Homo sapiens: one gene and its partners. The protein of the gene in region 6 purifies or fractionates together with the protein of the main gene of each other region. This does not show direct contact. Each region holds a gene or a part of one and is shown on either strand. Other genes may lie near its edges.

What was found.
Region 1: the proteins of RIGI (region 6) and CYLD purify together in Homo sapiens (affinity purification with western blotting; one study listed by BioGRID and IntAct). This does not show direct contact.
Region 2: the proteins of RIGI (region 6) and MARCHF5 purify together in Homo sapiens (affinity purification with western blotting; one study listed by BioGRID). This does not show direct contact.
Region 3: the proteins of RIGI (region 6) and RTN3 purify together in Homo sapiens (affinity purification with western blotting; one study listed by BioGRID). This does not show direct contact.
Region 4: the proteins of RIGI (region 6) and TIA1 fractionate together in Homo sapiens (co-fractionation; one large-scale study listed by BioGRID). This does not show direct contact.
Region 5: the proteins of RIGI (region 6) and EIF2AK2 purify together in Homo sapiens (affinity purification with western blotting, with the first as the bait; one study listed by BioGRID). This does not show direct contact.
Region 7: the proteins of RIGI (region 6) and TRIM14 purify together in Homo sapiens (affinity purification with western blotting, with the first as the bait; one study listed by BioGRID). This does not show direct contact.

What each region holds. Positions count from the first base shown.
Region 1 is NC_000016.10:50,783,586-50,787,085, forward strand, and holds part of CYLD (ubiquitin carboxyl-terminal hydrolase CYLD), read left to right. Parts: intron 1-273; exon of another isoform or gene 274-604; intron 605-743; coding exon 744-866; intron 867-3,253; coding exon of another isoform or gene 3,254-3,269; coding exon 3,270-3,361; intron 3,362-3,500. UniProt on the Homo sapiens protein: Deubiquitinase that specifically cleaves 'Lys-63'- and linear 'Met-1'-linked polyubiquitin chains and is involved in NF-kappa-B activation and TNF-alpha-induced necroptosis.
Region 2 is NC_000010.11:92,297,667-92,301,166, reverse strand, and holds part of MARCHF5 (E3 ubiquitin-protein ligase MARCHF5), read right to left. Parts: intron 1-3,500. UniProt on the Homo sapiens protein: Mitochondrial E3 ubiquitin-protein ligase that plays a crucial role in the control of mitochondrial morphology by acting as a positive regulator of mitochondrial fission and as an important regulator of immune response.
Region 3 is NC_000011.10:63,754,500-63,757,440, reverse strand, and holds part of RTN3 (reticulon-3), read right to left. Parts: intron 1,330-2,941; coding exon 1,271-1,329; intron 1-1,270. UniProt on the Homo sapiens protein: May be involved in membrane trafficking in the early secretory pathway. Inhibits BACE1 activity and amyloid precursor protein processing. May induce caspase-8 cascade and apoptosis.
Region 4 is NC_000002.12:70,242,129-70,245,628, reverse strand, and holds part of TIA1 (cytotoxic granule associated RNA binding protein TIA1), read left to right. Parts: intron 1-3,500. UniProt on the Homo sapiens protein: RNA-binding protein involved in the regulation of alternative pre-RNA splicing and mRNA translation by binding to uridine-rich (U-rich) RNA sequences.
Region 5 is NC_000002.12:37,118,981-37,122,480, reverse strand, and holds part of EIF2AK2 (interferon-induced, double-stranded RNA-activated protein kinase), read left to right. Parts: intron 1-2,341; coding exon 2,342-2,522; intron 2,523-3,500.
Region 6 is NC_000009.12:32,488,197-32,491,696, forward strand, and holds part of RIGI (antiviral innate immune response receptor RIG-I), read right to left. Parts: intron 3,225-3,500; coding exon 3,105-3,224; intron 1,256-3,104; coding exon 1,148-1,255; intron 692-1,147; coding exon 538-691; intron 8-537; coding exon 1-7.
Region 7 is NC_000009.12:98,112,723-98,116,222, reverse strand, and holds part of TRIM14 (tripartite motif-containing protein 14), read left to right. Parts: intron 1-3,500.

The DNA of each region.
Region 1 (3,500 bases), on a different chromosome or scaffold from region 6:
TGGAATGCAGTGACGTGATCTCGGCTCACTGGAACCTCCACCTCCCGGGTTCAAGCGATTCTCCTATCTCAGCCTCCCAAGTAGCTGGGACTTCAGGTGCACTCCATCATGCCTGGCTAATTTTTGTATTTTTAGTAGAGACGGGGTTTCACCATATTGGTCAGGCTGGTCTCAAACTCCTGACCTCAGGTGATTCACCCGTCTCGGCCTCCCAAAGTTCTGGGATTGCAGGCATGAGCCACCGCACCTGGCCTGTTAGTCACTCATAAGTGATTTTAGCATTTAAAGAAATTTATTAATGTAATAGATCTTTGCAAAGGGGCATGGGGAGAGGGAAGTGGGGCACTGAATAGTGCTTGCCTCGGGAAGTCGTTTCCAAATGCTGTCCTCTGTTGTCTGTTTGTAATTTGACTGATATTTGTAGTCTCTCTATCAACTTTTGCAAAGAAGTTTTCTTTCTTAATATTCTGTTGGCACGTTGTTATCCTTTAACACTGCCAATCTGCCGTTTGCTTTCTCAGTATTATTGGTGTTGTCCTTAACATGGAAGGATCTGTAGGTCCTGATGATTGAACCATGGGTATCTTCACAGGGGTCCTGGTACCTGTGTTAATGAAAAACACAAATTGTTATGTTATTTGTTCTCCAGACTTTACTTATTTTCCTCTTCTAATTCTGTTAAAAATCTGTTTCTTGAAAAATATGTTTACAGCATGAAGAAAATTATCCTTTTTCTTTTGCAGCTTATTTGCTTTTAGTTCTGTTCTGGACACTGTGTTACTTAGACCCAAAGAAAAGAACGATGTAGAATATTATAGTGAAACCCAAGAGCTACTGAGGACAGAAATTGTTAATCCTCTGAGAATGTAAGTAGAAAACAAATTGCTATTTTGCCTTTACATGGTGTTCTATTTGCTGTTTTCTGGTATAGTAATTAATTTATACCTTGTCTTCATGTAATAAGAGATGGGTGAAAATTAGTTCTTATGGTAAAATATTACGTTTTTAAACCTTTGGTCCTTGTACTTTTTTGCTTATTTAATTTCTTAAATGTGGCCAAGGTGTAGAACATAGCATATTCCATGAAATGATTTAACCTATTTTGCTAGAGTAAACTATAATTTAGCAATTGCAGTATGTTTAGGAAAGCTAATACATAATACTTAGGATTCTTATCTTTTGAAATAGTTTATTCCAACACTTCTGCTACAAGTAATCATGCTTATTAGTTAAATTGGTGTAGTCTAGCTTCTTAAATCTGAAAGAAAAGGAGAAAGGGAAATTCTTTATAGAATAGCTAGTGTTTAATACTTTGGACTAGCAACAGATGAGATGTATTTTAGTACCATATTTTTTGGTTAAAGGAATATATTTGGCCTCTTTCCACCTGCCTTAAAAAGGTGATTCTTTTTCCATTTCCTACTTTAGGAATTATAAATATGTCTTTTTATGGCCACAGGAAGCAATTTGTAATGGTACAAGCACAAGTGACAGGAGATATCTAGTAAAGACTTTGAATAAGTGGTAGTAGTGATATGTGATAATGTCACATTATAAAATTTAAACTATGAAGAATTAGGACCATAGATCATAAAACAAATTTGTTCATTCAGGAATATAGAGAGAAAGTGATTTATTTAAAGTCCATATTAAGATAAATTTGAATCCTTTTATATACTGTTCTTATTTATCAATTAAAGTAAAAAATAGTTTGATATCAAATTTGAACCAAAAAAGCAGAATACTCAAATACAATGAGGATTCCAAATTATCTGCTATATCACATGACTAGGAAAGTAAATTATAAGAGAATAAATTTCCTCACTTATATCTTTTGCTTTCTTTAAATTCTGTAATGATTTCTCTAATGATCTTACTCTTTAAGATAATTGTGAATCTTGATTTTCACATCAACTATTTTGTCTTATGCAAATTTTTAAACATACGATTTTTTTCCCCCAAGTAATTGATACTGGAACAAGACAGGTCAAACCCGAAACTCTAAGGCATGTTAACACCTCCTTCCTAGAAGAGAGGAAGAATAAACATTCTTTGGATCCTATTGTTCAGCCAGTTAAGAATCATAGTTAATCACACTTTCTTACCCTGTCCACGGTAAGAAACTGGTCAGATGCCCTGTTGTGATCAGGATTCCCTGTGTCTGTAGCATTCATATCTGTATATAGCTGACTGGTTTTATTTGGTGCTGAAATCTCTGCTTTTCTTCAGAGACCCTGTCTTTTTAACCTTACTCATTTTGTATTCCCAGTGGCTGACAGGTTACGTTACTATGTAAGTGGTAGATTCTCAGTCTGTATTGGTTGCAGGAAACTAATGAGTGAATGAATAGTATAAAAAGTGGATATAAAATTAGCTAGTTCTGACTTGTCCTTAGTAAACTTATGGTAGCCGCCAAGTTCTCCTCTGAAGCCATTTTTAGAATTACAAATTTAAAGTGATATTAAACTGATTGAATGTGTCTTGCATTCAGACAAAGAAGAGAGAAAATGTCATCATTATGCCAATTGGTTTGATTGCAGATTTTAGATTTTCAGTTTCTTATAAATTCCCTTTCCCATTTCCCTTGGTGGCTGTTTCACACTTCAGTATTAAAAGGATATTCTCTCTCAAAATTGTATATTCTGCTTTATAAAGTAAATGCTTTAATTTCCCAAGCAAATATTATTTAAAAAATCAGTCACAGCAAACCTAAAAATTTTTTATCTTAGTGTATGACAGTTACTTGTAGAGCATATAATAGTGTCTAGGATAATTCTGGTTCTAGATCTTTAATTTTGCAAACTTCAAGAAGAAGCTTATCATTGTTTTCTTCAAAAATAATTGTCTAACCTATTGATTTATGACATACTGGAGTTGTATAAGAAATGTGTTGGCCAGGTGTGGTGGCGCACACCTGTAATCCCAGCACTTTGGGAGGCCGAGGTGGGCGGATCACTTGAGGCCAGGAGTTCAAGAGCAGCCTGGCCAACATGGTGAAACCCTGTTTCTACTAAAAATACAAAAATTAGCTGGATGTGGTGGTGCACGCCTGTAATTCCAGCTACTTTGGTGGCTGAGGCATGAGAATCTCTTGAGCCTGGAAGGCGGAGGTTGCAGTGAGCTGAGATCGGGCCACTGCACACTCCAGCCTGAGTGATAGAGTGAGACTCTATCTCAAAAAAAAAAAAGAAAAAAAGAAATATGTGATTAAGATGTGTTATATAATTTAATACATGCCAATATCAATTAATAGTTTTTTACTAACTTAGATATGGATATGTGTGTGCCACAAAAATTATGAAACTGAGGAAAATACTTGAAAAGGTGGAGGCTGCATCAGGATTTACCTCTGAAGAAAAAGGTGACCATCTTAACTTATATGCGTTAAAAATAACTGAAGAGCATATTCACATGTCAAAGTATTAGCTGAAATGTGTGTCTGTGTAGTTGGGGGGTTTTCTTTTAAATTAGAAATTTCTTTTTATGTGATATATGGTTAG
Region 2 (3,500 bases), on a different chromosome or scaffold from region 6:
GCCTGTAATCCCAGCACTTTGGGAGGCTGAGTGGGGAGGACTGCTTGAGACCAGGAGTTCAAGGCCAGCCTGGCCAAAACAGTGAAACCCTGTTTCTACTAAAAATACAAAAAATTAGCTGAGCATGATGGCACACACCTGTAATCCCAGCTACTTGGGAGGCTGAAGCATGAGAATCGCTTGAACCCGGAGGCTGCAGTGAGCCAAGGTTGCACTACTGCATTCCAGCTTGGGCAACAGAGTGAAGGCTCTGCCTCAAAAAAAAAAAAAAAAAAGAATTAGGAGGCACTGAAGATGAACTGCTACATGAGTCTGGAGAAGAAGAGAAAAATATTTCTGCAGACATGGTCAGAAGAGCATTATAAACAAGGCAGAACCTAACTAGGTCTTGAAAAATGGGTAGAGCTTTGAAAGAAAAGATGCCAAACAAAACCCAAAAACAAAAACCACCTTATGTTTGGAAGAAAGTGCGCAAGCCAGTTTGGCTTGGGCAAAAGACTTGGGTACTTATACACTTATTCATAAAGAGAAGAAAGGCTTTAAAAAGGCAGTTGGTGCCAGCTATGTACGGCATATCTTAAACATAATAGGGAGCATAATAAATGGTCTGTGAATAATGGTGAGTGTCCTGAAGGACAGGCTAAAGAATATGATCTCTTTTTTTTTTTTGAGACAGGGTCTTGCTCTGTGGCCCAGGCTGGAGTGCAGTGGCATGGTGCAATCTCAGCTCACTGCAACCTCCATAACCTGGGCTCAGGTGATCCTCCCATCTCAGCCTCCCCAGCAGCTGCAATTACAGGTGTGGGCCACCACACCCAGCTATTTTTTCTTTCTTTCTTTTTTTTTTTAAGTAGACACAGGGTTTCTCCATGTTGCCCACGCTGGTCTCAAACTCTTGGGCTCAAGCAATCTGCTCCTCTCGGCCTCCCAAAGTGCTGGGATTACAGGCATGAGCCACTGAGCCCGGCCAGATCTTTTTTTCTTTTCTTTTCTTTTTTTTTTTTGAGACAAGGTCTTGCTTTGTTATACCCAGGCTGGAGTGCAGTGATGTGATAATGGCTTGCTGCAGCCTCAATCTCCCAGGCTCAAGTGAACCTCCCGCTTCAGCCTCCTGAGTAGCTGGGAGTATAGGCATGCACCACTACACTGGTTACTTTTTTATTTTTTGTAGAGACGGGGGTCTTAGTATTTTGCTCAGGTGGGTCTCAAACTCCTGAGATCAGGCGATCCTCCTGCCTCAGCCTCCCAAAGTGCCCAGCCCTGAACTTAATCTCAATAAGCAGTAAGAAAATACAAGTTTTGAGCAAATGAGGCAATTTAAAAAAATGGTGCTTCTGCATGATTATTCTAAGCACTGATATGTCACAAAGAATGAAAAGAAAGACATCATGATACAAAAGAGGGTCTCCTATGCACTAAGGCCCTTGTGGGAAAATAGGATAGGGAATACAGGCAGTTTCTGTTCTCAGTGAACTTCCAGATGAATATGTGTGTGTGTGGGAAGCTCTGAGACATGGGACAAGTATATTAAAAAATTTACAGTACAATGTGATACACTATAATAAATGCAACAAGGTTCTATTGAAACACAGAAAGGAGTTATTAACTCTGTTTGGGGGAGCTGTGCAAGGTGTCACTGTGGTATTTCAGCTGAATTCAATATGGGTAAGACTTCACCAGGTGTTAGGAGGGAGGAAGGCACCTAAAGCAAAAATAAAGAAATGAAAGAGCAGGATATGTTCAGGGGTCAATGAAGGGGAGTGCAGGAAAGGATGGTTAAGGTAGGTTGGGGCTGGATTATAGTAACAGATCAAAGCACGTTACCCCGTTGAAAGTTTACGTTTTATCCTTTTACGTGACACAGAGACTGGCAGATTTTTAAGTATAGAAATCGCATGATTATAATTGTGCCTTCGCTAATTCTAGTGCCACTCTGTAGGCCAAACTGGACCAAGTGAAAAATTGAAGCTAGAAAAAGGAAAATCAACAATATGTGATGAACAAGTGGATCTGGAAGGAAAGAAGGCAGCAAAAAAATGTAAATAGGCCGGGCAAGGTAGCTCATACCTGTAGTCCTAACACTTTGGGAGGCCAAGGTAGGATTGGTGGAGAACAGGAGTTTGAGACAGCCTGGGCAACATAGTGAGACCCGTCTCTATCCCCCTCCCCACCAAAAAAAAAAAAGTTTAAAAAAAATTAGCTGGGCATGCTGGCTTGCCCTGTGCTCCTAGCTACTTGGGAGGCTTGAGCCTGGGAGTGCAAGACCCTGTTTCTTTAACAAAAACAAAGAAAACAAGAAAAACTTATGTTTTGGCTAGCTTCATGCCTGTAATCCCAGCACTATGGGAGGCTGAGGCAGGAGGGTCACTTAAGCTCAGGAGTTTGAGACCAGCCTGGGCAACACGGCGAAAGCCCGTCTCTACTAAAAATACAAAAATTAGCTGGACATGCAGTCCCAGCTAGTCAGGAGGGTGAGGTGGGAGGATATTTTGAGCCGGAGGGTGGGGGATGGAGGTTGCAGTAAGCCGAGATGGGCCACTGCACTCCAGCCTGGGCGACAGAGCCAGACCCTGTCTCAAAAACAAACAAACAAATAAAATTTATGTTTTATAGCTGGTGGACAAGAAGACTGGTAATATCAAAGACCAAAAATTGAGAAGTCAAGATAAGTAGCTTAGTTTTAGATTGATTGGCAATACTGTATACACACAAATGGAAATGTCCACTGGGCAGGTAGAAATTAGGTGCTAAAGGAAATGAGGAAAAGAGGTCAGGAATAAAGACACAGATCTGGGAGTTGTTTGAATAAACAGGAAAGAGAGTGAGTAAGTGTACTTTCTCAAAATAGTAAATGCTGAGAATTGAACCATACATAGAAATTGAAGGAAGAAAAAGGTAACGTGATTCTGAAGGATAAAAAGTCCTGAAGAAAATGTCATTATATTTACTAAGAAATTATTGGTGACCTTTAGTATACATATACATATATAGAGAGAGAGATCGTGCAGTGGCACGATCTCAGCTCACTGCAACCTTTGCCTCCCAGGTTCAAGCGATTCTTGTGCCTCAGCCTCCCGAGTAGCTGAGATTACAGGTATGTGCCACTATGCCCTACTAATGTTTGTATTTTTTGTAGAGATGGGGATTCGCCATGTTGGCCAGGCTGGTCTTGAACTCCTGAGCTCAAGTGATTGGCCTGCCTCGGTCTTCCAAAGTGCTGGGATTACAGGTGTGAGCCACTGCACCCAGCCCTTCAGTACACTTTCAGTAGAGCTAATGACAAGAAAGGGGAATGAAAGTCAAATTATCAGGAAAAATAATAAAGAGAAAATAAGAATCTAAATGTCATAAACGAGACTGGATTAAAAAAGAAAAAAGGCCAGGTGTGGCGGCTCATGCCTGAAATCCCAGCACTTTGGGAGGCCGAGGCAGGTGGATCACGAGGTCGGGAGTTTGAACCAGTCTGGCCAACACAGTGAAACCCTGTCTCTACTAAAAAT
Region 3 (2,941 bases), on a different chromosome or scaffold from region 6:
GTCAAGGCTGCAGTGAGCTTTCAGCTTGTGCCACTGCACTTCAACCTGGGTGACAGAGTGAGACCCTGTCTCTAGAAAGCAAAACAAAAAAGAAAGAAAAAAGAAAAAAGAAAAAAAATACTGTCCTCTAGGTATGGGGAAAAAAAGTAAAAAGAAGAAAACAACTCTTTGATATAGGGAGTCATAAAGATGTTTGTCAATATTTTATTTCCTGATTTATTAATTGGTTTAAAAAAATGGGAACAGAGATTTGGCAATCTTAGAAAAGACAACTTTGATCCTTAAGTTACTTATTTACTAGAACTTTTGTTTCTGAGAGGGATACGTTTGGCTTAAATGAATACATGTGAAAATAAATGAAGGTGGGGAAGCAACCAATAACTTTTTGGTTTTTTTTTGAGACGGAGTCTCACTGTCACCCAGGCTGGAGTGCAATGGCATGGTCTCTGCTCACTGCAACCTCGCCTCCCAGGTTCAAGCAATTCTCCCTCCTCAGCCTCCTGAGTAGCTGGGACTAAAGTTGCATGCCACCACACCTGGCTAATTTTTGTATTTTTAGTAGAGATGGGGTTTCACTATGTTGGCCAGGCTGGTCTCGAACTCCTGACCTCGTGATCCACCGGCCTTGGCCTCCCAAAGTGTTGGGATTACAGGTGTGAGCCACCGTGCCCAGCCTGTAATGAAGAACATTTAAAAGCCAGTTCAAAAAGGCAGAGTAGCCTATGGTCCTTGCTACTGGAGAAGCTGAGGTGGGAGGATCACCTGAGCCCAGGAGGTCGAGACTGCACTTCAGCCTGGGTGACAAAGCAAGACCCTGTCTCCAAAAAATTCCACTGATCTTTTTTTTCCCATTGATCCTCTTGTCTCAGCCTCTCCAGTAGCTGGGACTAAAGGCACGTGTTACCATGCACAGCTAATTTTTTATTCTTAGTAGAGACAAGGCCTAGCTATGTTGCCCAGGCTGGTCTTGAACTCCTGGGATCAAGCAATCCTCCTGTCTCGGCCTCCCAAAGCACTGGCATTACAGATGTGAGTCAAAATGCCTGGCCTACAAAGGTCCAGAAGGCAGGGCCAGAAAAAGATATAAAGGATTTTTTTTCCTTTTTATAGAAGCAGCTATAATAATTTTTAGTAAAATGAAACTATTAACTAAGGTTTTTATCAAAATGAAAATTACTTTCCTTGGCATCTGCATTTTGTACAAGGGACTAAAGATAATTGGGGGGAAGGAAGCATACCTCATGATGATGTGGTCTCTAAATGTACTTACTTTTCAACAATTGACTTGGTCTGATCTCGGGCGATGCCAACATAGTGATCAATCTGGGTCTTTAAGGAAGGAAAATAAATTCAGTTGTGGTAACATACAGATCACCAATTTTCCTGAAGGCACGGCTCTTTTGTCTAGTTTAACCATTTTTTAAACACGACTGACCAGTGTAGAAAATGAAAACACCCAGTTTTTAAAAGTTTTTTTTTTTTTTGAGACGGAGCCTCGCTCTCGCCCAGGGTGGAGTGCAGTGGCGCTATCTTGGCTCACTGCAAGCTCCACCTCCCGGGTTCACGCCATTCTCCTGCCTCAGCCTCCCGAGTAGCTGGGACTACGGGCGCCCGCCACCACGCCTGGCTAATTTTTTATATTTTTAGTAGAGACGGGGTTTCACCGTGTTAGCCAGGATGGTCTCGACCTCCTGACCTCGTGATCCACCCACCTCGGCCTCCCAAAGTGCTGGGATTACAGGCATGAGCCACTGTGCCCAGCCTTTTTTTTTTTTTTTTTTTTTTTTTTGAGATGGAATTTTGTTCTTGTTGTCCAGGCTGGAGTGCAATGGTGTGATCTCGGCTCACCGAAACCTCCACCTCCCGGGTTTAAGCAATTCTCCTGCCTCAGCCTCCTAAGTAGCTGGGATTACAGGCATGCGCCACCATGCCTGGCTAATTTTGTATTTTTAATAGAGACAGAGACAGGGTTTCTTCATGTTGGTCAGGCTGGTCTTGAACTCCCATCCTCAGGCAATCCACCTGCCTCCGCCTCCCAAAGTGCTGGGATTACAGACATGAGCCACCACACCTAGCCTTAAAAGTATTTTTAAAACCTCTGGTTTTAGAATCCAAATTACACCATAAACACCCCACACTTTGTTAAAGTGAAAAAATCACTCATCTTTTGCAGAGGTTAAGTCTTACTTGGTAAGTATTTTCTTTAGAGACACTGGAGTATATAACAGTTTCCAATGACTAGAAACTGTGTGTCTAATCTATTTTCTGTCATCATAAATATGTTATGGCTCTTGTGTAACACTAATTCACTTAATACCAAAAAGCCAAAAAGTCTCTTGATGGATGACTTAATCCATAAAGAATAATCTCATGGCATCTAGTATACTTGGTACACATCATCCAACAATGCAAACACCTCATCACACTGATGGATTACCTGAATAACCTAGAGTTTAAAGTTTCCTTTTAGACACCCGGCTTTTATTCATCTAAGCATTTTTTTTTTTTTTTTTTTGAGACAGAGTCTCCCTGTCGCCCAGGCTGGAATGCAGTGGCGCGATCTCGGCTCACTGCAAGCTCCACCTCCCAGGTTCATGCCATTCTCCTGCCTCAGCCTCTCTGAGTAGCTGGGACTACAGGCGCCCGCCACCATGCCTGGCTAATTTTTTGTATTTTTAGTAGAGACGGGGTTTCACCGTGGTCTCAATCTCCCATCTAAGCGTTTTTTTTTTTTTTTTTTTGAGATGGAGTCTTGCTCTGTCATCCAGGTTGGAGTGCAGTGGTGCAATCTCGGCTCACTGCAACCTCCACCTCCCAGGTTCAAGCAATTCTCCTGCCTCAGCCTCCTGAGCAACTGGGACCACAGGCGCCTGCCACCACACCCGACTAATTTTTTGTATTTTTAGTAGAGATGGGGTTTCACCGTGTTAGCCAGGATGGT
Region 4 (3,500 bases), on a different chromosome or scaffold from region 6:
AGCATATGGGTGATGTATACTACTCTTCTCCATATATAAATTTGAAATTTTCCACAGTAAAAAAATAAAAATACGTGTATAGTGAGTCTGAATTGGCCTTGGTTACTTTAAAAATATTCAACTTGTGAACTAAAAGCTACACACTAGACTAGAAAAACATTGCTGGTGTTAGTTGATGAAAGTTAATTCCCTCAAATCCAGACACCTTAATATCCTTTGTGTGGTTTACTCTCAAATGCATGAGTGTTCTCTTTTGAGATAACTATACTGTTATTGTGCGGCTTTCCCATTTGCTAAGATGCAGATCTGTAAATTATAGACCATCTTTAAAAGCCTGCAGCTGGCCAGGCATGGTGGCTCACACCTGTAATCCCAGCACTTTGGGAAGCCGAGGTGAGTGGATCACCTGAGGTCAGAAGTTTGAGACCAACCTGGGCAACATGGTGAAACCCCATCTCTACTAAAAATACAAAAATTAGCTAGGTGTGGTGACACATGCCAGTAGCCTCAGCTACTCGGGACTCCGGAGGCTCAGGAAGGAGAATCGCCCGGGAGGTGGAGGTTGCAGTGAGCCGAGATCACGCCACTGCACTCCAGCCTGGATGACAGAGCAAGACGGAGCCCAATTAATTGCTATATACTAATGAGGGCCTTGCCTTTCTTCTGCTCCATGCTCATCTTTCATTCTTGTTGTCTACTCCACTCTCCAAATAGTATTGGCCTTGTAATTTGTATGAAATAAAATCTCTTGTATTGAGAATCAGACCTATCTTTTTTTTTTTTTTTTTTTTTTTGAGACAGAGTCTCGCTCTGTCACCCAGGCTGGAATGCAGTGGCCCAATCTTGGCTCACTGCAAGCTCTGCCTTCCAGGTTCACGCCATTCTCCTGCCTCAGCCTCCGGAGTAGCTGGGACTGCAGGCACCCGCCACCACGCCTGGCTAATTTTTTGTATTTGTAGTAGAGACACAGTTTCACCGTGTTAGCCAGGATGGTCTCGATCTCCTGACCTCGCGATCCGCCTGCCTCAGCCTCCCAAAGTGCTGGGATTACAGGCGACAATCAGACCTATTTTAAAGATTAGATTGAAGGCAAGGTTGGCCAAAATGAGATATTTATTAGATAATACTTATGTTTCCAAATAACTGCTAGTAATTAAGAATATGCTAGAAACATTACATTCACTCAGTAATATTGAGAGCATACTACATGGCTGTCCGTCTTCTGGGAACTGGGGATATGGTAGTACATATAATAGGCCTTTTACGAATTTACATAAGTAATTATGTTAGATGGTAATAAGTGCTATGGAGAAACATAATGCAGGGTATGCATGGTAAGGAGGAAGGGGTGGATATTTATAGAGAATAATAAAGGAAGGTCATCCTTTGATAAGTGACATTTGAGGAAAAAAGTGAAGGAGATGAGGGAGAGCCATGCTTCTATCTGAAGGAGGAGCACCCTAGAAAGAGCTAGTGCAAGGGGCCCTTGGGGGCAGGTCATGCTGGTTGGTTAGCCTGAAGAGAGTAAATGTAGTAGAGGAGTAGGAAATGAGGTCAGAATGATAAATAGGAATGTTAGGGGAGATAGAAAATGCCAGATCATACGGATCCTTATGAGGGCTATCTTATCTGAGTAGGAATGGAAGCTGTAAGTGGGTTTCACGCAGAGTAGTGGTATAGCCTATCTTAACCTTAAAACTGGCAAAAGCAAGTAGCCTAGTCAGGAAGCCAATCCAGGTATCAGAGAAAGCAGTGCCTGTAATTGTAGTTAGTGCTGGTGAAAGTGATGGGAAGTAGTTGAATTATGGATATGTTTTGAAAATAGAGCAACAGGAATTACCAGTGGCTTAGATGTGGCATGTGAGAATGATGTCAACAATAAATGGATTTATTTTAAAATGTGTAATATCAGTTATCTAAAATGTTATAGTTTGTTGCAAAATATAAGTAAAAATGAAAAGTCTTGAGGATCGATATCCCTTAAGATGTCTACAGGCATAGTATTGAATACATTTGTTCAAGCTGGTTTACCTAGTGAAGGAGGTCCCAACTAGTAAGGCAGTTTCAGCCATCTCTTGTAACAGATTATTCTTTGTGATGGGTATACATTTGTTAAATAATAATAAGGTTAGGATGCTGATGTATAGTATATACACAAGCACTTACTATTCTACACAATTTATTTATTTATTTATTTTAATTGAGATAGGGTCTCATCCTGTTGTCCAGGCTCTGGCGCAGTGGTGTGATCACAGCTCACTGTAGCCTCGACCTCTCAGGCTCAAGGGATCTTCCCACCTCAGCCTCCTGAATAGCTGGGACTATAGGCATGTGCCACCATGTCTGGCTAATTTTTAAAAATATTTGTAGAGAAGCGATCTCACTGTGTTGCCCAGGCTGGTCTCCAACTCCTGGGCTCAAGCGATCTTCCCACCTTAGCCTCCCAAAGTGGGATTATAGGTGTGAGCCACCGTGCCTGGTGTTTACACAGTTTCTTCATTAGCAAAAGACATAACTAATCTTTTCCCTCTAGGGTAACTTAAGCAAAATGAGAGAATTTTCTAGCAAATTGCAAATGTTCAGAAGTCATTCTGAGACAGTACATTTAACTCTTTAACAGATATTTATAGAGCAATAAATATCACTGCAATGATATTGCAATGTTCCAGGCAGTGTTCTAGACTAGCAGTCCCCAGCCTTTTTGGCACCGAGACCAGTTTTGTGGAAGACAATTTTTCCATGGGCGGGATGGTTTCAGGATGAAACTGTTCCACCTCAGAGCATCAGGCATTAGATAAATTCTCATAAGGAACACACAACCTAGATCCCTTGCATGCCCAGTTCACAAATGCTGCTGATCTTACAGGAGGCAGAGCTCAAGCAGTAATGCTCCCTCCCCTGCTGCTCACCTCCTGCTGTGTGGCCCAGTTCCTAACAGGCCATGGACGCATAATGGTCCATGGCCTAGGGGGGAGTTGGGGACCCCTGTTCTAGATGGTAGATACCAACTAAGAATAAAAATGAAAACCTCTTATGGAATTTATTATTAGGTAAAAAACTATTCATCGTTTTTACTCAAATTTTCAGAGACCTTATCAAATTCTGCCTTTTTTTTTTTTTTTTTTTTTTTTTTTGAGACTGAGTCTCTGTCACTCAGGCTGGACTGCCGTGGTGAGATCTCGGCTCACTGCAACCTCCACTTCCCGGGTTCAGGTGATTCTCTCGCCCACCATCACACTTGGCTAATTTTTTGTGTTTTTAGTAGAGGCAAGTTTCAACATATTGGCCAGGCTGATCTCGAACTCCTGAGCTCAAGTGATCCCCCACCTCAGCCTCCCAAAGTGCTGGGATTACAGGCGTGAGCCACCGCTCCCAGCTAATCCTGAAAATTTCTTATAGGCACAAGAGTCAGGTGAGAGTAGACACACAAGAGATGCAGAGATAGTACAGAGTTTTGTTTTTTGCGGGGGAGGGTTTTGCGGAAGAATGGCATGATAACC
Region 5 (3,500 bases), on a different chromosome or scaffold from region 6:
CATAATAGGATGGAAGGAAATTGTTATTTACTATGTATGGGCCACTGGATAAGGCTATTAATCATCACGATTAATTATCACAATTCCCTCTGAGAGACACTGTTATCTCTCCATTCCGAAGGTAAGGAGAAAGTGAAAATCTCTTCCTTGCTCCTCCTCTTGCTGCAGACTTGCTCTCACAACCCTCTGTTACATCCTCAGCTGTCTGCAAAATCTCAGGTTCAGCTTTCCTGACTCCATTGTTTCATGGAGAGCCTTGTTCACGTGCCGGCTTCAGCGCAGGCTGTTTAAGTGTAGTCTTGTGAAGAGAGTTTTAACATATAGATGCTGCATCTGGGGGCTCCCTCCTCAGCTACCAACACTTTTCTGTCCCTCTCTTAGGCTGTGATTGGTGTGGTGCCGTCAGAGGGTCTCTTTGGAATGTAACTATACCACTTATGCTGGGGTGGTGGGGAGTGAAAATATTTTTAAGACCACAAGCTGAGATGGGGGCACCCTCATGTTTTATGTCAGTTAAGCCATTGCCAAACAACTGGAGATCCTAAAGAGCTGGCATCTGTCTTTGAAAGTCACCCAACCTATTATGGGGACAGTCCTCTCACTAAAATCCTGAGGCCAATGGGGTCCCATTCATTCATTTTCTCCTGCCCCACCTCCATCTCCATGTCGTGTAAGTGAGAACATTATCATCAGTTCAGGAGTTATTGACCGTCAGCATACAGGACTTCAGCTTTCAGCAAATTCTTGGCTACCTCTTCCTGTTTTCAAGCTGACATATATACAAAGAATATAAATGAATATTGAGGCTAACTTAATTCAGAAAAAAAATAAAACGTGGTTAGCAAAAAAAAAAAAAAAAAAAATCAAGCCTCCAATTTATGTATCTTAGTAATTTGTTGGCACTTCTCTTAGAGTACCTTCCCTATTGTTTTAGGTTTGCTTTCCCTTTACTCTCTCCTATTAGACTATTATCCCCGTGACGGCAAGGATATAGTGTCTAACTGATTTTCTCATCTCTAGGTGCCTTTCATGCTTAGTAGATCAATGGTGAATTAAAAGGTTTCAAAGTTACTTTATATAATAATGAAATTTAGTTTCCTGCATTGTATTCATGTTCCTATTTCTATCTGTTAGCAATGGTGATTGCAGATCTTCAGCAATGAAGAATGGGTGGCTCATTTTTTTTTTCTTCTCGTTTTTTTTTTTTTTTTTTTTTTTGAGACGGTGTCTCGCACTGTCGCACAGGCTGGAGTGCAGTGGTGCAATCTTGGCTCACTGCAAGCTCTGCCTCCCGGATTCACAGTATTCTCCTGCCTCAGTCTCCTGAGTAGCTGGGACTACAGGCGCCCGCCACCACGCCCGGCTAATTTTTTGTATTTTTAGTAGAGACGGGATTTCACCGTGTTAGCCAGGATGGTCTTGATCTCCTGACCTCGTGATCCACCCGCCTCGGCCTCCCAAAGTGCTGGGATTACATGCGTGAGCCACCGCGCCCGGCCTCTTCTTTTTTTTTTTTTGAGACAGAGTCTTACTCTATCGCTCATGCGGGAGCACAATGGCGTGATCTCAGCTTACTGCAATCTCTGCCTTCTGGGTTCAAATGATTCTCGTGCCTCATCCTCCCGAGTAGCTGAGACTACAGGTGCCGCGCCACCACACCCAGCTAATTTTTGTGTTTTTAGTAGAGATGGGGTTTCGCCATGCTGCCCAGGCTGGTCTCAAACTCCTGAGCTCAAGCAATCCGCCAGTCTCGGCCTCCCAAGGTGCTAGGATTATAGGCGTGAGCCACCGTGCCCAGCCCAGCTCATATTTTATAAATTAGCTAAACAAATAAAGCTCTGGACATCCGGGAACTTATGATTGAAATAAAAAATGGCCTATTATATTTTGATTCAAATTTGTTTATTATATTTAGATTTCTATTTTGTGACATGTTTTGGGGTTCTTTTTTTTTCTTTTTTTTTTTTTTTTTGTGAGACGGAATCTCGCTCTGTCACCCAGGCTGGAGTGCAGTGGCGTGATCTCGGCTCACTGCAAGCTCCGCCTACCGGGTTCACGCCATTCTCTTGCCTCAGCCTCCCCGGAGTAGCTGGGACTACAGGCGCCCGCCACCACGCCTGGCTAATTTTTTGTATTTTTAGTAGAGACGGGGTTTCACCGTGGTCTCGATCTCCTGACCTCGTGATCCGCCCGCCTCGGCCTCCCAAAGTGTTTTTGGGGTTCTTAAGAAGATAAGGTATAAGCTTTTAAAAAGTTATGAAAAACTTTAAAAAGTTATAAAAAATTTTTTATAAATTTATATTTATTGTTACTTTTAACATACTGTGAATTTTATACCCAGGTCAAAGACTAAGTGCCTTTTCATCCAAATGGAATTCTGTGATAAAGGGACCTTGGAACAATGGATTGAAAAAAGAAGAGGCGAGAAACTAGACAAAGTTTTGGCTTTGGAACTCTTTGAACAAATAACAAAAGGGGTGGATTATATACATTCAAAAAAATTAATTCATAGAGATCTTAAGGTAAGTGGAAAATGTACTTTATTAATTGATATATATATAATATAGTAATTTTAAAATATATCTTCTCAGCTGGGCACAGTGGCTCACGCCTATAATCTCAACACTTTGGGAGGCTGAGGCAGGCAGATCATCTGAGGTCATGAGTTCGAAACCAGTCTGGCCAACATGGTGAAACCGTGTCTCTACTAAAAATACAAAAATTAGCTGGGCATGGTGGCGTGCGCCTGTAATCCCAGCTACTCGGGAGGCTGAGGCAGGAGATTCGCTTGAACCTGGGAGGTGGAGGTTGCAGTGAGCCAAGATTGTGCCACTGCACTCCAGCCTAGGTGAAGAGTGAGACTTGTCTCAAAAAAAAAAATTATATATATATATAAAATAAGATAGATAGATATATATTTTTTTCTCTAGTTTTAGAATAGTGGTTGATTGATAGTTATGAGAAAATGGTATCTGAACATTTCCATGCAAATAATTACTGTGACTGGCACAGCCAACTGGCTGCTCTGCCCCTGTTCCTCCTGCCTCCTCTAAGTGACTCAGCTTTATTTGAGAGGCAGAGGGGACTCTGTTGACTGTTGCTTTAGGAATATGGTTCCCTAATCTCTCAGTCATTACTCGCGAGGGCTGTCACAGCTACTGGGTCCAGAGTCTAATACTGTCTTGGTTAAGCATTTCAACCCCATGATTGGAAAATTGCGGTAATCCCGGACTGGGAAAGTGTATCATCCCTTAGTATTTTCATTTTCCTCTGGCTTTTATGGTCCGGACAAGGAGTTTCCCTATTTTTTACTTCTCATTAAAATGACAGAAGGTGAGAGACAGAATAGCCCTTCACAGCCTTTCCTCCATTCCCTATTCCCTGTGACTTGCCTAAGCCTGTCACAAGCTGGCCGTCCTGAATCCTGTCCCTGGACCTTTGCTCATGTTCTTCTCTCTCATGGGACACTCTTCTGCCTGCCCCCTTTGGTTGTAATTCCT
Region 6 (3,500 bases):
TCTATACCTGGGAAATGACAGAAATTCCATATTACTAACCACGATGTGGATAAGGAACCACAAAGATGAAATGCTAGATCAGAACATCAACTGATTAAATTCTCCCTGAGTCCAAAAGAAGAATAGCTGTAGGCAAGTCCTTAGCACAGAGCCTGACACATAGTAAGAGATCAATAAATCCAAGCTAGTTGTAATTTATAGTACTATATATTATTTTAAGTCACTAAGAGAGAAAAGAGTACGTAAAAGAATAATATCAAATAAATTATAAAATCACTAAAGAAGTTAAATGTGCCACGTAAACATCAAATTTATTCCTGAAGTCATTTACTCCCCATAGAAGGGCAAACCAGGGGAGTTTAAGTTTTCTGGTACATCTAACAAAAAAGACTTGAATCCATGAAGGGATAACATCTGGATTATAAAAAAGCTGAATCTAATATAAATTTTTTTAAATCATTTGTCAAAAACAAAACAGAAAACACATCAATTACATGAAGCTGGAGAAAAAGAAGTTGAAGCAACTATTATACCTACCCATGTCTTTCAAAGTATTTTGAGAATACAGATTTCTGCTGTTCATACACTGGGATCTGATTCGCAAAAAAGACAACTTTCCCCTTTTGTCCTTGTGGGAATTTTTTAAGATGATGTTCACATATAAGCAGTGAAACAAAGGTTTTTCCACAACCTTTTAACATGTAAGGAAAAAAGAAAACATGTAACTCATATATTAGATATTTCTCTGGAAAGGTGTTTATTTTTGGCTCTTCTAATACCACTGAGCTGACTAATTAATTGATAATTTAAATATGTTAATGATTACAGAATTTACACTATGACTAAAAAATATCAAGCTGCTCCCTAAGTAGCATGCCAACAGCCAGGACCCAAAAGCAAGCTAAAAGAGGACACTTTTCTTTACCTTCTCATGAAAGGTAAAGAAAATACATTAAATACATTAATGTACATAATTAATTAATTACATAATCCCATAAAAAACATTAGGATTATATTAGGACAGTTTTCTCAAAAGACACATGGAACAAGGAAAAAACTGAAACTTGCCCATTCTGTCCCAGTATTCAACAAAAGAAAAAAAAGGAAGCAAACAGAAAAACTATGTAAGTAATGGCAATAGGCTTACCTGTAGGAGCACATATTATTGTGTTTTTTCCTTTCATAGCAGGCAAAGCAAGCTCTAATTGGTAATTTCTTGGTTTAAATGGGCTGTACAAGTTTGTATCAGACACTTCTGGAATACAAAAGGAGCAAAATTACCAAACAGTTCCTGCTCTGAGGAATCACGGCAATAGCTACAGTCTAATGTCCACAAATTCTGACTCCAGCAAGAAGATCCTCATTGGAGAAAGTTTAGAATCCTTTCTCTTGGTAACCATTCTAGCTTTTCCACTAATTTGAAGTACAGAATTCTCTCAGTGACAAAGTATTGATGGCAAGAAAGAAAAAAAAAAAAACATGAATTATTTTTTATACAATCATGGAAGGCTAACAGAAACCAAAGAAAGAATGGCCCCATTCAGGGTAAGACAAGCTGTCTACTAAAGGCAATGCTGTATGTGAAAAAAGCAACAAATCCTCCCACGATCTTTGAAGAAAACCAAACTGTTAACATTGGATTCTCAAAGCAATTTCTTATTAAGGAGCAATAATGCTTTGTCGTTCTTCAAGTTCTCAAATGATATTTTCTCTCAACATAACCAGAAGTTTTAAAAAATAATCAAAGGCTTTATCTCAATAACAGGTAGGCATATAAATCATTAAGAGCTAGCAAAGACTTTGGAAATTATCTACTGAGTCTAACCTACCCATTTTAGAGAAAGGGAGAATTTCTAAAAGGTTAAGTGAATTAAACTCACACGAAAGACATGTAAAGGCCAGGTGCAGTGGCTCATGCCTGTAATCCCAGCACTTGGGAGGCTGAGGTGGATGGATCACTTGAGGTCAGGAGTTCAAGAACAGCCTGGCCGACATGCTGAAATCCCCACCTCTCCAAAAAAAATACAAAAATTAACCAGATGTGGTGGCACATGCCTGTGGTCCCAGCTACTTGGGAGACTGAGGCAGGAGAATCACTTGAACCCAAGGTTGCAGTGAGCTGAGATTGTGCCACTGCACGCCAGCCTGAGCAACAGAGCGAGAGACTCAGTCTCAAAAAACAATAACAACAACAACAACAAAAGGCATGCAAGAATCTTCACGTGTCAGAAAATTTAAAGCAACTCATATTCATGTATCTGTTTTTTTTTTCCAAGGGGTAACAGATTTTATTCTGAAATGACCAAAAAAACAAAACAAAACAAAAAAACTTGTAACATTCAGTTGCAGACGTAATCTGCACATTTTCTCTTTATGATGTTATTCTAATATCATTTTTCTTCTACCACCACTATTAATCCCAATTTCCTTCCTGATACTCTTTTATACATAACTTTTTATTATGGCATATTATGCAACTTGCCGGTCTCATAAAACCATCAAGAAAATATGCTTTGAGAAGCATAAGGGGGCCTCACAGGGCCACAGCTAACTTATACAGTGCCTTTGTGTAAATGACAAAAGGGAGCTCCTCTTGGAGGACACAGCCCCTCAGTGCACTGTGTTGCAAACGACACAGGCTGGATCTCAGCCCCTACTCAACCTCTCAGCCAGGCGCATTTGGGTAGCACACTAACTTCATCAACTTGCAGGGCAGCCCAGGGATCCTAAAAGGAAATTGAGCAAGTGACTCAGAAATAGAAGTAGTATTTATTTAGAAAGCAAGGTTGATTTGGGAATTCATAGACATTGGGTTTTGGTGAAGACTCTATTTGCATTTCCAATATAGACACGCCCATACTTTCTTAGTGGTAGAAGAAGAAAAAAAAGATAGTAAAAGAAGAAAAAAAGATAGTGGAAGAACTAGGAGAGAATGGCATTCTAAATATAGAAAAAGTATCTATTGTAACATAAATTCTCTTTACTTTCTTAATTTTCCTTACAAAACTTTTCACAAGGCTGTGACTTTGGGTACTGCAAAACAAGCCCCCACACCAAATACCAGAAGAGCACCATTATGGAAAAGGACAAACAATACCAGGTACCTGAAGGTGGACATGAATTCTCACTAAGATTCTGGCATTCTGGATCTTCTTGGTAGAAAATCTGTATGTCAGAAGTTTCCATCTTATCCTCAAGATCTTCTGTTTCAACATCTTTTATACCTTTTTAAGACCAAAAAAGTCTTAGAATCTTCACATAATCTGATTATAGTTTTGATGGTGAAAGCTCCACAAAATGGTCATAACACTAAGATTTTTAACTTCTATTAAAATTTCTCACAACCACTCCCCTTCACCTTTTAAAACAGTTGAAAGAATCATTTTGAGTTTAAAATCTCAATTTGGCGTTGACCTCCAATGTAATTTAGAGCTATATTACTCAAAGTGTGGAACGTATTGCCCTACTGAATCAGAATCCACATTTTAACAAGACCTCGG
Region 7 (3,500 bases), about 66 Mb from region 6:
TCAAGTGATTCTCCCACTTCAGCTTCCTGAGTAGCTGGAACTACAGGTGTGCACCACCACTCCTGGCTAATTTTTGTATTTGTTGGTAGAGATGTGGCTTCACCATGTTGGCCAGGGTGGTCTTGAAAACTCCGACCTCAAGTGAACTGCCCACCTCAGTGTCCCAAAGTGCTGGGCCCCCTTTTATTGTATTTTATTTTATTCTTGTTAACATTTTTTAATAGAGGCGGGGTCTCACTATGTTGCCCAGGCTGGTTTCAAACTCCTGGACTCAAGTGATCCACCTACCTCAGCCTCCCAAAGTGCTGGGATTACAGACCTGAGCCACCAAGCCTGGCCCCCAAGGGTCTTCTTATGGGCTCTGTAAACTTGACTTCAGTTCCTGAAAGCAGTCTGATCATATATGAAGATATATCATTTCAGTCAAAGCCTTGGTAAAATTACCAGTGTCTCCAATGTGGTCTGTTATGAAAGAAAACATACTCTTATTGAACTTATGCAAATAACTATATTGTCATAAAATAAGAATACTCACAAATAGCCAGGTGCGGTGGCTCACGCCTGTAAACCCAGCACTTTGGGAGGCTGTGGTGGGCGGATCAGTTGAGGTCAGGAGTTGGAGATCAGCCTGGCCAACATGGTGAAACCCCATCTTTACTAAAAATACAAAAATTGTGCTGGGCTCAGTGGCTCACGCCTGTAATCCTAGCACTTTGGGAGGCCAAAGTGGGTGGATCACGAGGTCAGAAGTTCGAGACCAGTATGACCAACATGGTGAAACCTATCTCTACTAAGAATGCAAAAATTAGCTGGGCATGGTGGTGGGCACCTGTAATCCCAGCTACTCGGGAGGCTGAGGCAGGAGAACTGCTTGAACCCCACGAGGCAGAGGTTGCAGTGAGCCAAGATTGTGCCACTGCACTCCAGCCTGGGCAACAGAGAAAGACTCCACCTCAGAAAGAAAAATTAGCCAAGCGTGGTGGCATGTACCTGTAGTCCCAGCTACTCAGGAGGCTGAGGCAGGAAAATCGCTTGAACCTAGGAGGCAGAGGTTGCAGTGAGCCGAGATCATGCCACTGCACTCCAGCCTGGGTGACAGAGCAAGACTCTGTCTAAAAAAAAAAAATTAATTTAAAAATGAAAATAAAAAAAGTAAACACAAATAGTTTGCAAATTTTGGTGAAATCAGGTAGAGAGAAAGACAAATGTTTCAATTTTGCTCACAAAAGTATCTTTTATCCAGTTGCTGTGACAAAAGAAAAAATTTTCTTGACTGAAAAACAATATAAAAAGAATCAGCAATGTTTCAAATTTTAAAAATCATAAAAATCACTTTTATCCTCTATCAGTTTAGTCCCATGTAAATAATTCTTGCTCTGCTTGATGTTGGGTTAGCAGTCTTCATGAATGCCTCAGGTTTTTATTAGAGTTCTGGAAGCTTTTGCTTAATCCAATGGTAAGATCTCTGAAGTTACCAGAAACCTGTATTCAAGAGTACTTGTCAGGGTTTTTTTCCAAAAATTTCCTTAAAGATGAAGCAAATTTTGTAGCTGATTATAAACGACTTTTTTTAAAAGAATCAAAGTAAAATAAAAATTGTCGGCTGGGTGCGGTGGCTCACGCCTGTAATCCCAGCACTTTGGGAGGCTGAGGCGGGCCGATCACGAGGTCAGGAGATCGAGACCATGGTGAAACCCTGTCTCTACTAAAAATACAAAAAAATTAGCCAGGCGTGGTGGCGGGCACCTGTAGTCCCAGCTACTTGGGAGGCTGAGGCAGGAGAATGGCATGAACCCGGGAGGTGGAGCTTGCAGTGAGCCGAGATTACGCCACTGCACTCCAGCCTGGGCGACAGAATGAGACTCTGTCTCAAAAAAAAAACAAATTGTCTGTGGATGATAAAAGGCTTAGAATAGCCACGGTCAAAGATGAAATTGACTAGGATATGTGGTTATTTGTGTGGCACACACCAGTTTATCATAATAATTATGATAATGATATACTGATAACATATACCAAGACATATCAGACTTTTAGGAATCTCATACAATTTTGGAACACATTAATAATACGCTTTTATAAATATAACTCAAAGAAAGTTAAACATCATTTCTTATTTGACAATATTTCCCATATGACTTTGACATCCCAAATAAGCCTAATGTGTCTCTTTTGGACTTCCAGGGGTCCTGGTTATGCCCAAGTTAGCTTGGGTCAAAAAGACTTAATTTAATTTTGGGAAGTATCTCAAATATTAAAGGTTTAAAACACTTGATATAGAAATAAGAAAGGTTTAAAACACATGATCAAAATAGAATCACAGGTCACTACAAAATAATGGTAATTACTTTAGCCAAAATGATTATTCAAAGATTTCAAAAAGCAAAAACCACTCTGATAGAGGAGATTCAGTTCTCAATCAAGAGACCTAATAAAGACAGCATGGGACAAACTCTCCCCAGTTACCTTTTCTTTGCCATTTATGCAAAAGTAAATACATCTTTTACCGTCTCTTATTAATTCTACATTACATTTTTATTCAAAGGAGAAAAACAAGTTTTACTTTTAGGCCAGGCACAGTGGCTCATGCCTGTAATCCTAGCCCTTTGGGAGGCCAAGGCAGGCAGATCACTTGAGCTCAGGAGTTCAAAACCAGCCTGAGCAACATGGTGAAACCCTGTCTCTACAAAAGATACAAAAATTAGCTGCGTGTGGTGGTGTGTGCCTATAGTCCCAGCTACTTGGGGGGCTGAGGCAGGAGGATTGCTTGAGCCTGGGAGGTCAAGGCTGCAGTGAGCCAAGATTGCACCACTGAACTTCATCTTGGGTGACAAAGTGAGACCCTGTCTCAAAAAAAGAAAAAAATTACTTAGGTGTTAGTATATTATCTATCATCCAATTTCAGTCAGCTTTGACTACACAAGATAAGATAATCGATAATCTCTCACCATTTTCTATTAAAGAGCAGATCAATGCTCTGATAAAACCTGGTTGTTCCAACACAGGAGCCCAGACTCTGGCCTTACATGAGTGTGCTTTTGATATTAATACTTAAGTTTTAGAAAAACTTATAAAAAATTCCTTCTTTTTTTTTTTTTTTTTTTTTTTTGAGATGGAGTTTCGCTCTTGTTGCCCAGGCTGGAGTGCAGTGGCATGAACTGCCTCACTGCAACCTCCACCTCCCAGGTACAAGCAATTTTCCTGCCTTAGCCTCCCGAGTAGCTAGGACTACAGGTGCACAACACCATGCCCAGTTAATTTTTATATTTTTAGTAGAGACGGGGTTTCACCATGTTAGCCAGGCTGGTCTCAAATTCCTGACCTCAGGTGATCCACCTGTCTCGGCCTCCTAAAGTGGTGGGATTACAGCCATGAACCACCGCGCCTGGCCATTTCCTTCTGATTTTTTTTTTTTTTTTTTTTTTGAGATTGAGTCTTGCTCTGTCACTCAGGCTGGAGTGCAATGGCGCAATCTCTGCTCACTGCAACCTCCACCTCCC